Homo sapiens: one gene and its partners. Changing the gene in region 3 together with the main gene of any one other region gives a genetic interaction. Each region holds a gene or a part of one and is shown on either strand. Other genes may lie near its edges. The genes, in order: STK11, NF1 and NDUFB6.

Region 1 (3,650 bases), on a different chromosome or scaffold from region 3:
GCAGGCAGGCTGACCTGACTCCAAGCCTGACAGATGTCCCCTCCACCCTGAGGCCTGTGTCCCAGGTGGCACTCAGAAGCCAGCACCCACCAGATGGATGCTGGCTGCAAAGCCAGCAAAGGCCAGAAGGGGGTCTGGGGGGCCCTGAGCACATCCCAGCCCAGGAGGCTATCGGGGGGCAGCCCCAGTCCCCGCCAGGCGCCCAGATGACCCGAGCTGTGCAGAGACCCCCAAGGCACAATCAGCACCAGCGCCTCAGGGGTCCGGACACTCCCACTCCCAGAGCCGGTCTCAGTGGGTGGCCTCGGGGCTCGGAGGGGCTCCAGCAGACGGCTCAAGGGCCTCCAGGGGCTGGTGCAGAGGAGCAGAGCCCACGAAGTGAGGGAGGCGGCACTGTGGGGCCTGCTGACCCCGTCCGCTGCTCTGTCTTCCCTGTCATGGAGCTGGGGGCCCTGGGCTGGATCCCAGCCACACCCTGCTGCTGGGAGCCCCAGGAGGAGGGGAAAAAGAGAGGCTCTCGCCAGTGTTTGGGACCAGCTGTGCCCTTCCTGGCGCATCTCCATGCCTAGGGCAGGGACGGACGCATGTCCTCACTCAGACCCCAGTTCGGACAAGGCGCCTGGGTCTGGCCGGTAACAGGACACTGCCCAGAGACCCCACTCGGGCCCCGAGAACTGCGGGCGCTGCACGGGGTCTGGCCCCAGCCCAGCCTGGCACCCCCACCACGCCCTGCTCTAGCGCCCGCTCAACCAGCTGCCCACATGGCCGGCCTCCCTGCAGCCTCGGCCCCACTGCCCCCAGGGGCCGCTCACCTGTGCTGCCGGATCTGCCGGATGGAGAACCTCTTGGCCGGTTCGTACTCAAGCATCCCTGAGGAGAAGCCGGCGAGGAGCCTGTCAGCTGGGCACAGGCCTGAGACCCCACCAACCGTCCCCGCCTGCCCAGCCTCTGTTGTCAGGCCCTGGGTGATACCTGGACGCTCCTAAGGGGGACCCCGCGCACAGGCGGTCTCCCTGACAGAGGCCACTCCACTCCTGGGACATGCCGGGGACAGCCTGTGCGCGGCTGGCAGGGAGACAGGGCTGGGCTGGACGGCCAGGGCGGTTCCGTTCTCCCAAGGCCACTGGGCAGATGGACGGACGGCCAGTGCCACCTGCTGCCATGCGTAGGAAGTGCAGCAGGACAACCCTGACAGACCCTGCAAGCCAGGGAGCCCCCGAGGGTGGGGCTGGGGGAGGCGCAGGGCAGCACTGCCCTCTGGGGTGGGAGTTCGGAGGGTGAACAGGGCCCAGAAGCAGGGTGGAGCTGAGGGACCTGGCAAACCAGGCCCTGCGGGGAGGTCGGCCTCTCCACTCAGTCCTCTCAATGCCTGCTGGGGTCTCGGGGCCAATAGCCCCCCACCTGACACCCCCAACCCTACATTTCTGCACAAAAGCCCCGCCTCCCTGGGGCTGCGGGCAGAGGGATGAGGCTCCCACCTTTCAGCAGGTCAGAGAGCGGGGGGCCACAGTCGCCCGGGATGGCGTAGCTCCCCTTCCCGATGTTCTCAAACAACTTGTAGATGTTGTCCCCTTCGAAGGGGTACAGACCCGTGGTGATGTTGTAGCTTCATTTCGAGGGGAGGGAAGAAAGGCGTGGTCAGTCAAGGTGGTTGACGCCCTAGGAGCCCCAGCTCTACCCCAGGGACAGAGGCGTCCCGTGGCTGCTGGACCAGAGGCCCTGTGGACTCAAGGACACCTCTGTCTTCACCACCTTCCACTAGTGGAGGCTACGGGGTAGGAGGGGAGTGTCCTCTGGACCCACCCGGGGAAGGGGCCTGGAGCTGCTGTCACCCGCCCAGCTTCCCTGTGGGGCTCTGGGAGGAGGGTCGGCCGTGCCACTCTGTGAAGATCCCTGACGGGCCAGGCTGCACTTCACACGGGTGAACCACCATCTGCCGTATGAGTTACATTTCCATAAAGTAAGCACCCCCTAGCGGCTGTGGCCAGAGAGGGTCTGGGCCGGTGGCCACGCCCTGCGCCCACAGGCCGGCAGCTGCCCAAGACGCAGAGGCCCCTCGGAGTGTGCGTGTGGTGAGTGCCCGGGGGGGCGGGGCACTTACAGGGTGACCCCAGCCGACCAGATGTCCACCTTGAAGCCGGAGAAGGTGTCCAGGCCGTTGGCAATCTCGGGCGGCTGGAAAGCCGGGGAGCCCTGGCTGGTCCGGCAGGTGTCGTCCGCCGCGAACGGGTGCAGTGCCTGTGGCGGTGCCGTGCAGCCCTCAGGGAGTGCCCGGGAGGGGGCGCCCCAGGGCCCCCCCTAGCACGTGCCTACCTCGGCCACGCCCAGGTCGGAGATTTTGAGGGTGCCACCGGTGGTGAGCAGCAGGTTCCCCGGCTTGATGTCCTTGTGCACAATGCCCTGGCTATGCAGGTACTCCAGGCCGTCAATCAGCTGACAGAAGTACCTGCGGGCAGCACACACCCGTCCTGGGGCCGAGGCCTCCCTGCCCCTCACAGGGGTCCCCTTTGCAGCTGCCTGGGAGCCTCCCAAACACCACAGGCCCAGCTGGGAAGTCACAGAAGTCCAGGCACACAGGACAGAGGAAAGGCTAGGTCCAGCAGGGAGCCACACCTGCGCCTGCAGTGGCCACCCTCGTCCGGCCGAGCCACGTCTGGCAGGGCCCCGGATGTCCACAGGTCTCATTTTCCTGTGGGCCACAGGCCGGCTGCACCCCAAAGTCTTGCTGGAACAGCAGGCCCCTCCCTGCCCCTGTGGTCCTGCAGCAGCAAGGGGCCCTGACTCTGAGGCCACAGACCTGCATCCAGGAGATCTGGTCAGGGCAGGCGGCTGCCAGCGATGGGCTGGAAGCAGGCCACTGGCCTCAGGCAGCAGGCCCAGCAAAGATGGAGGCGGGAGGTTGGCAGCAGCCCTGCCTGTGGATGCCACACATGGGGGACCCCAAAACTGTTTTTAAAAACTTGGGCCTTTACAAGGCCGGGCGTGGTAGCTCATGCCTGTAATCCCAGCACTTTGGGAGGCTGAGGCAGGCGGATCACGAGGTCAGGAGTTTGAGACCATCCTGGCTAACACGGTGAAACCCCGTCTCTACTAAAAATACAAAAAATTAGCCGGGCGTGGTGGCGGGCGCCTGTAATCCCAGCTACTCGGGAAGCTGAGGCAGAAGAATGGCGTGAACCTCGGAGGCGGAGCTTGCAGTGAGCCGAGATCGCACCATTGCACTCCAGCCTGGGCGACAGAGTGAGACTCCATCTCGAAAAAAAACACAAAAAAACAAAAAAACAAAAAAACTTGGGCCTTCATGTCAATGAATATCAGGACAAGCAGTGTGGCCTCACGGAAAGGAGCCTGCCCTGCCTGGCCCCCGGCCCCCGCCCCACCCTGGCCCCTGCCCCGCGCACGCACCCGTGGGCCTGGCACACTGGGAAACGCTTCTCCGGCACGCTGTCCAGCATTTCCTGCATGCCACACACGCAGTACTCCATCACCATATACGTGGGGCGCTAAGGACACACAGCTCAGGGGGCGGCCCCACTCACAGGCCCAGGGAGCACGGGGGCCAGAAAAGGGGCTCTGGAGGGACCCTCTGCACCCACCTTGCCCCTCCTCGGGACCAGGGCCCACCCTGCCCTCAGCCACCCCTCTGAAAA
Region 2 (3,650 bases), on a different chromosome or scaffold from region 3:
AGAATTAAACCACTTTAGAACTGGATGGTAATACCATGCCATTATCGAATCTTTTTCATTTTATTAATACAAAAACATGATTTCCAGATATCTTAAATATAAAAATGGGATAAGGTCAGACCATCCTAAAACAGTGGCCACTTCATTTTACTCCTTTTAAATATAATCTTCATTTGGCACCCAAACTCTTATGACGATCAAGTATACTTCTCCCAGCTTTAATTTCTCCATAGTAATAATCACTAACATACTACGTATTTTGTTTACTTCATTATCCATTCACTCCCCAACCTCCACACCCACCCCAGAAAGTAAGCTCCATGAAGGCAGTGAGTTTTATGGGCTTTGTTAGTACTCTATCTCTAGCGCCTAAAACAGTACTTGGCAATAGCAGATAATTAATAGTTATAAGATAAAATAATTAAGAATATATACCTATCTTTCCTTTAGCACTGATGAGACCAAAAACTTACAAGCGCTTGAGAACATACTATCCATACTTACTCTTCTTCTAATATGACTACTTCAAACAACTAAACTTTAAGAGGTTCTACTTTAACTATAGTTTTTTCTTTATAACTTATTCTCAATTCATCTTATTTTCTAAACTCTTTGAAAGAAAGTAACATTCAACACTGATACCCAAAATGAATGCACTCATTTTCTATACAGTAATTACCTTATTAAGAAGTGGCTGTAATTTGGTTAGTGCTATTACTGTAGCTTCTATCAGAACTTGACTGTTGTAAGTGTCAGGTCCTTTTAAGCAACTCTCAAGTGCCTTTTAGGAAAACAGAATTTTTTATTTTACTTTCATTGAAATAAAACATTAACTCCTAAACTGAATCTCGGAATGAATTCAGGAACATTTACTTATTTAATAAATGCTAGAATGATTTCTCATGCTATGGTGATCTTGGTAGCTAGCTTAATGTACATTTGTTTTCTTATTTTTTGACATTTCTACATTATAAGAGTCAGACATTATTATAGTAATTACAAATTAAATAATTTTATGCAAGGCTATAGTCTTACCATATAATTAAATGCTTTGAAAACTGGTAAAATACTAAGTGTACCTGCTTAGCAAAAGAGGCAACATATTTTATTTTAAAGACATCTTCCTTAATGAAGTAATCAGAGTTTACATATAAAGACAGCTTCTTTAGAGAAGACTTCTTCAAAGAATTACAATAAATAATCAAAATACATTTTAAAGGCTTAATAAGTAACATATAAGATATTTCATTGACCTCAAATTTAAACGTCTTTTAGAAAAATGAAAGATATGCTTTACAACTTGAGAACCATAAATATTTGGGAGAAGTGAGGGCGGAACAGGTACCTTGCTAAGAATACGGATTATCTGCTTTATCTGCCCATGAGACACTCGTTTGCTAATACACCCAAAGACAACAAGAGCTCTTGGTTGCAGGGATGGATTATATTGGAATGCAAATCTGCAATTAAAAGATCCACAGAACTTATAAAAACCTTTGTGTTTATATATACTAAATAATAAATTATAACATTGATCATACAGTAATAGCTGTATTTTCAACAATATGCATATTTTTACAACTTATATTTAATTTAGGACATACCTTTGAGCTAGTTCTGTCCACTGGTCCAGCCACTTGCACGTTGGAATATCTCTCATGCATGCCTAAAAAAGGGGATACTCTGAATACATATTGTACATAAATGTTTTTAGAACTGTTTAAATAATGTTTATTATGATGTCATTAAGTGACCTGTTACCAATAACACAGTCCATGCAAGTGTTTTTATTTAAGCATTAAGTACAAAATAGCACAATAAACCAATATTTCTTCTATATAGTATTAACATATTTTTAAAAAAAGATTTTAACTTAGTTTCTTATCATTTTGGCTTCTATACCTCCATGATCTCCAACAAAGCTTCTGTGACTGTTTCCAAGGATGTCAAAGCAAAAGTCTCTCTCTCATAGGAGCCAGGAGAGAATGACCTGTCCCGGTAACTGGAACGGAAGGCAATGACAGCAGCTGACTTGACTTTGCTAATGCCAAACAGCAAGTAAAATTTGGGTAATGAGAACTCTGTCAGACTGAGTCTCAAAACTTGCTTGGTCTCTTCTGTAAGAGAATAAAGGAACAAGTAAAGACAGAAAATATTACTTTTTAATTTCTAAAGTTCCATGTTTCATTTTGAATTTAGAAAATTTGAATACCATATAAAAATTACATAATCATGTTCCCTAAATCAAACCTCTAGATACATTGTATTAATGCTCCTTGCTTCATTTATCTACAAATTAGTGCTGGTAACTGAACATGGTCAACTGGCACTGAGTATTCCGCTTATGGGATAACTCTACATGACAAGTATGCATAGAAAATCTTTACTATAGCTTGATATGGAATGGAAGTAATTTATTTTCTTTTTGGTAATATTTCATGTCATTACTGGAGGCTTAAATTAGCAACTTGGTGTTAGAGCACAAACATAAATAAGATAATCTATATTGATCAGGTGAAGTAAAATGGAGAAAGGAACTGGTAAACACAAATTCCTTTCCTAGAACTTACCACTAAAATGAAGCTGTGAACAAGTACACAGAGAGTGAATGATATTAATGACCAGTCCATGTGTGGAAGCTCTAAGGGAGAGCGGACCTGTGGCTACTAAGAAAGTAACAACGTGGAAGAGGTAGGGAAGATGAGCTGCCACATCAAGGGAATTGTTGAAGGACAGCATCAGCATGTAGCGTGCTAAAATAGCAATATCATCCCACATAAGATGTTGTTCTAAAGTAGGAGTTGGAGATAAGCATGTCTTGTCAATTATTTTGCACATCCTTCCAATAACCTGTAAAGAAGCAGGATTTTTTTTTTTAAAAAAAAAAACATGGGACTCAAAGTTTTAGCACAAAAAAGTTCAGTTTAATTTAAAAGTAATTACAAAACAAAAAACCTCCTGATGATAAAACAGATATGCTATAGTACAGAAGGCAAAAGAAAAGTGATTACCTTGCTTGAAACCAATTTCACATTTCCAGAAGCCAAAGCTACAGCAGTATCTGCCATCACCTCAGCTTTTATTGATCCCAAGCCACCTGTTGCACTGGTTTTGATGAAACTGTCTAGTACAACATCAAGCAGATCTGTAATCTAGTTGAAGAAGGAAAATAACATGTTTTTAATCACTCTACCAATTTAATTTTTAATTAAAAAATATTCATTGGAACAGCCTAATCAATATGAAAATTCTATTTTACCTGAGGCCTCAAAAATACTAGATTTTATTTACAGGCCTGTCAGTAAATACAATTTATTATAAAATATCCAGTAAAGGATGAGTATATTCATTTGACTCCTTCAGAGATTAAGAGATTGGTATTCAAAAATTTTAAATCTCTATCAATACTATCTTCAGTCACTTGCAAAGTATCTCTATGCTTTTCTAAGACAGTAATGTAGCATCAATATAAAATAGTAATTTGAAAATACAGAGCTGGGTGCAGTGGCTCACGCTTGTAATCCCAGCACTTGGGGAGGCTGAGGCGGGCGGATTGCTTGAGGCCAGGAGTTCAAGACCAGCCTGGGCAACATGGCAAAACCCTATCTCTAAAAAAAAAAAAAAAAAAAAATACAAAAATTAGCCAGGTG
Region 3 (3,650 bases):
ATCATGGATTTGGGGCCGGGGTGCAATGATGGAATGGGACTTTGGGATTTCTCCCTAAGGAGAGAGACTAAGTGTGTTATGCATGGGTAAAGAAAGAAGCCAAGAGCTGTTTGGTGACTAGAAAGATGGAATGTAGCAGAAACTCCATGAACAGGGGTCTGGGAAATAGCAAAGAGCACACAGATAATATTTGGGAAGATGACAGTGAGTTTTAGCTAACAGAATTTGAGCAGAAGTGATGTAAGCTACTTCTAAGCTTAGATCCTAAAAATCATCCCCTGAGACATCCTGCCGTATCTTTGTATCACAATCTTGGAACCTCATATTCGATAGGCACGGCTGTAAGATTGAGGAAGATCACCTGATTCACAGTAGTCTGTGATGTCAACAAGAAATAAACCTCTGTTTTGTTAAGCCATTGAGATTTGGAAGTTTGTTATTACTTGTCCTATTCTAAACATATATACAATGAGCATTCTTCAGTTCCTCAAAGGGGTCATGGCACAGAAACAAGAAAGAACCACAGTGGCAAAAAATACAGAAATATGAGAAATGCTACAGGATCCCTGATATGGTCTTCTGAATAGAGCTCTCCTTTTCCTTTGAACAGTAAATGGCAAAATAAATTAACATTTAAATGGAATAAATGGAAGACTAAATAAATATAAATTGCCCAGCTGGAAAAACCAGCAAGATAATTTCCTATTTTGAGACTACCTAGGCTGTAACACACATCAATGTTACACAATAAAACAAAAGGAGAAATCCCCTACTTTTTTTTTTTTTTTTTTTTTTTTTTGAGGCAGGGTGCTCTGTCGCTAAGGCTGGAGTGCAGTGGCGCAATCTTGGCTCACTGCAACCTCTGCCTCCCAGGTTCAGGCAATTCTTGTGCCTCAGCCTCCCCGGTAGCTAGGATTACAGGCGTGCACCACCATGCCCAGCTAATTTTTGTATTTTTATTAATAGTAGAGATGGAGTTTCACCATGTTGGCCAGGCTGGTCTCAAAATCCTGACCTCAGGTGATCCACCTGCCTCTGCCTCCCAAAGTGCTGGCATTACAGGTGTTAGCCACCGCGCCTGGCCCCCACTTTTTTTTTTTTTTTTTCCCGAGACAGAGTCTCACTCTGTGACCCAGGCTGGAGTGCAGTGGCGCAAACTCCGCACACTGCAACTTCTGCCTTCCAGGTTCAAGCAATTCTTGTGCCTCAGCCTCCAGGTAGCTGGGATTACAGGCGTGCACCACCACACCTGGCTAATTTTTGTATTTTTTTTTTAGTACAGATGGTGTTTCACCATGTTGGCCAGGCTGGTCTCGAACCCCTAGCCTCAAGGGATCCACCCACCTCGGCTTCCCATAGTGCTGTAATTACAGGCATGAGCCCCCGATACCCCCTACTTTTTTTTTTCCTTTTTCCTTTTTTTTTGAGATGGAGTTTCACTCATTTCTGAGGCTGGAGTGCAGTGCCACGATCTCAGCTCACTGCAACCTCCGCCTTCCAGTTTCAAGCAATTTTCCTGCCTCAGCATCCTCAGTAGCTGGGATTACAGGTGCCCGCCACCACGCACGGTAATTTTTGTATTTTTAGTAGAGACGGGGTTTCACCATGTTGGCCAGGCTGGTCTCGAAGTTCTGACCTTGTGATCCACCCACCTTGGCCTCCCAAAGTGCTGGGATTACACGCGTGAGCCACCGCGCCTGGCCCCTCCCCCAACTATTTCTTAAACCAGCGTTCCAACTGGGACCGCTGGCCAGTTTTGGTGGCCCTTCCTAAAATTCCCCTGTTGCAACAGATAATCATTACTGTGACTAAGTCATTTGATTAAAGCAAGAATCACACTTTTGTTATTTAAATTGTGTACTTTTGAGTTATGATAGTTCATTATCTGTGACTAGAAATAGACAAGAACATAGTATGTATTCTACTATGCTAAACAATAACCTCACAAACAGCTAGTAAATACCAACTGACTACTGAGTCACCTTTTAATGCTAAAATAACTCATTTCAAATTAGTACTATAGCTCACACATTCATAGTATACATTTTTTTTTTTTGAGACGGAGTCTCGCTCTGTCACCCAGGCTGGAGTGCAGTGGCGCAACCTCGGCTCACTGCAAGCTCCACCTCCCAGGTTCACGCCATTCTCCTGCCTCAGCCTCTCGAGTAGCTGGGACTACAGGCGCCCGCCACCACGCCCAGCTAATTTTTTGTATTTTCAGTAGAGACGGGGTTTCACCGTGTTAGCCAGAATGGTCTCGATCTCCTGACCTCACGATCCACCCATCTTGGCCTCCCAAAGTGCTGGGATTACAGGCATGAGCCACTGTGCCTGGCCCATAGTATAAAATTTAAAACACCCATTAGTGGATATTAAATTCACAGATGGAGAACTTAAGGTCAAATCTTGAAAATGAGGTACAAAGCCATAGGACATGAGAGTTTGGAATTAATAACAGAAATTCAGTTGCTGTCACCATGCATGGATGTTTGCTTAGGCTCATGCCCTAAGCTCTTTACCCAACATGAAACAGGACACAGTGAAAAACTTTTGGTACTTTCAACTCCCTTTAGGAAAATCAAGGTCACAAAACACGTTTTACAGCCAGGTTGAAAATAAATGTGCTCACTTCCCATTTGAACTGTAATTGTTACCTCACGGTATTTCTTCCTGTTTTTTTTTGTTTTGTTTTGTTTTTTACAAGAATACACAAAACAGGGACTTAAACCGAAAGTGAGAAGGAAAGAACATTTTAATCTAATAATTGCTTGGAAAGGGAGGAAAAGGAAAGAGAAAAACAATAAACAAAAGAAAAATCAGAAGTGTTAAGACTTACAGGGAATATTCTGGACTTCTTTTCAACTATGCCATATGGTTTTTCCTGTAATAAAAGTTAACTCTGTGTTAATTATGGTGTTAAGAGTTTCTTCTGAAAATAAGAAATAGGTCATACCCCAAATTTTAACTTAAGCTCCAAACTTTCACAGAACTCCAGATTCACATATCCAACTGTTTACTCAACATCTCTACTTAGCTATCAAACAGGCATCTCAAACTTAACCAGGTCCCACACTTAACTTCTCCCATCCCCAAACTGTTCCTCCCCATGTCCCCCATCTCAGTAAATGACACTCTTATTCCCCCAGTTATGAAAGACAGAAACCTTGACTCCTCAGCAGAGCCTGTTAATTCTATCTTAAGAATATACCCTGAATCCAACTGGTTCTCATCACCAGCCTTGTCCAAGCCTCTATCATATTTTCACCTCAACTACCACAACAGCACCTACTAGCCTCCCTGCTTCCACTTGTGCCCTCCTATGCAAATGAAAAGTCTATTCTCCACACTTCAAGGCAGAGTACACTGATTCTTTTAAGATATGTCACTCTGCTCAAAGTTTCATAATTCTTAGAGAAAAAGCCAGTCTTTTCTCCCTCACTTACTCTACTACAGCCACAGTGGCTCCATTCCTAGGAGTCCAATTCAGTCAAGCCTGCTTGTGCCTCAAGGCCTCTGTACTTCATGATTCCTCTACCTGAAATGCTCTTCTCCTAAATACTGCTTGACCTGTATCTTCATTTCATTTATGTTTGTCTTCAAAGATCACTTCCTCAGAGAGGCCTAATTAAAATAGCAAGCCTTATCATTCT

What was found.
Region 1: changes in NDUFB6 (region 3) and STK11 together harm fitness more than expected from each alone (negative genetic interaction), as found in Homo sapiens cells (one large-scale study listed by BioGRID).
Region 2: changes in NDUFB6 (region 3) and NF1 together harm fitness more than expected from each alone (negative genetic interaction), as found in Homo sapiens cells (one large-scale study listed by BioGRID).

What each region holds. Positions count from the first base shown.
Region 1 is NC_000019.10:1,219,169-1,222,818, reverse strand, and holds part of STK11 (serine/threonine-protein kinase STK11), read right to left. Parts: intron 3,496-3,650; coding exon 3,406-3,495; intron 2,447-3,405; coding exon 2,314-2,446; intron 2,239-2,313; coding exon 2,102-2,238; intron 1,607-2,101; coding exon 1,479-1,606; intron 871-1,478; coding exon 813-870; intron 1-812. UniProt on the Homo sapiens protein: Tumor suppressor serine/threonine-protein kinase that controls the activity of AMP-activated protein kinase (AMPK) family members, thereby playing a role in various processes such as cell metabolism, cell polarity, apoptosis and DNA damage response.
Region 2 is NC_000017.11:31,335,835-31,339,484, reverse strand, and holds part of NF1 (neurofibromin), read right to left. Parts: intron 3,153-3,650; coding exon 3,012-3,152; intron 2,851-3,011; coding exon 2,571-2,850; intron 2,118-2,570; coding exon 1,903-2,117; intron 1,667-1,902; coding exon 1,605-1,666; intron 1,461-1,604; coding exon 1,346-1,460; intron 782-1,345; coding exon 680-781; intron 1-679. UniProt on the Homo sapiens protein: Stimulates the GTPase activity of Ras. NF1 shows greater affinity for Ras GAP, but lower specific activity. May be a regulator of Ras activity.
Region 3 is NC_000009.12:32,556,074-32,559,723, forward strand, and holds part of NDUFB6 (NADH dehydrogenase [ubiquinone] 1 beta subcomplex subunit 6), read right to left. Parts: intron 2,882-3,650; coding exon 2,837-2,881; intron 1-2,836.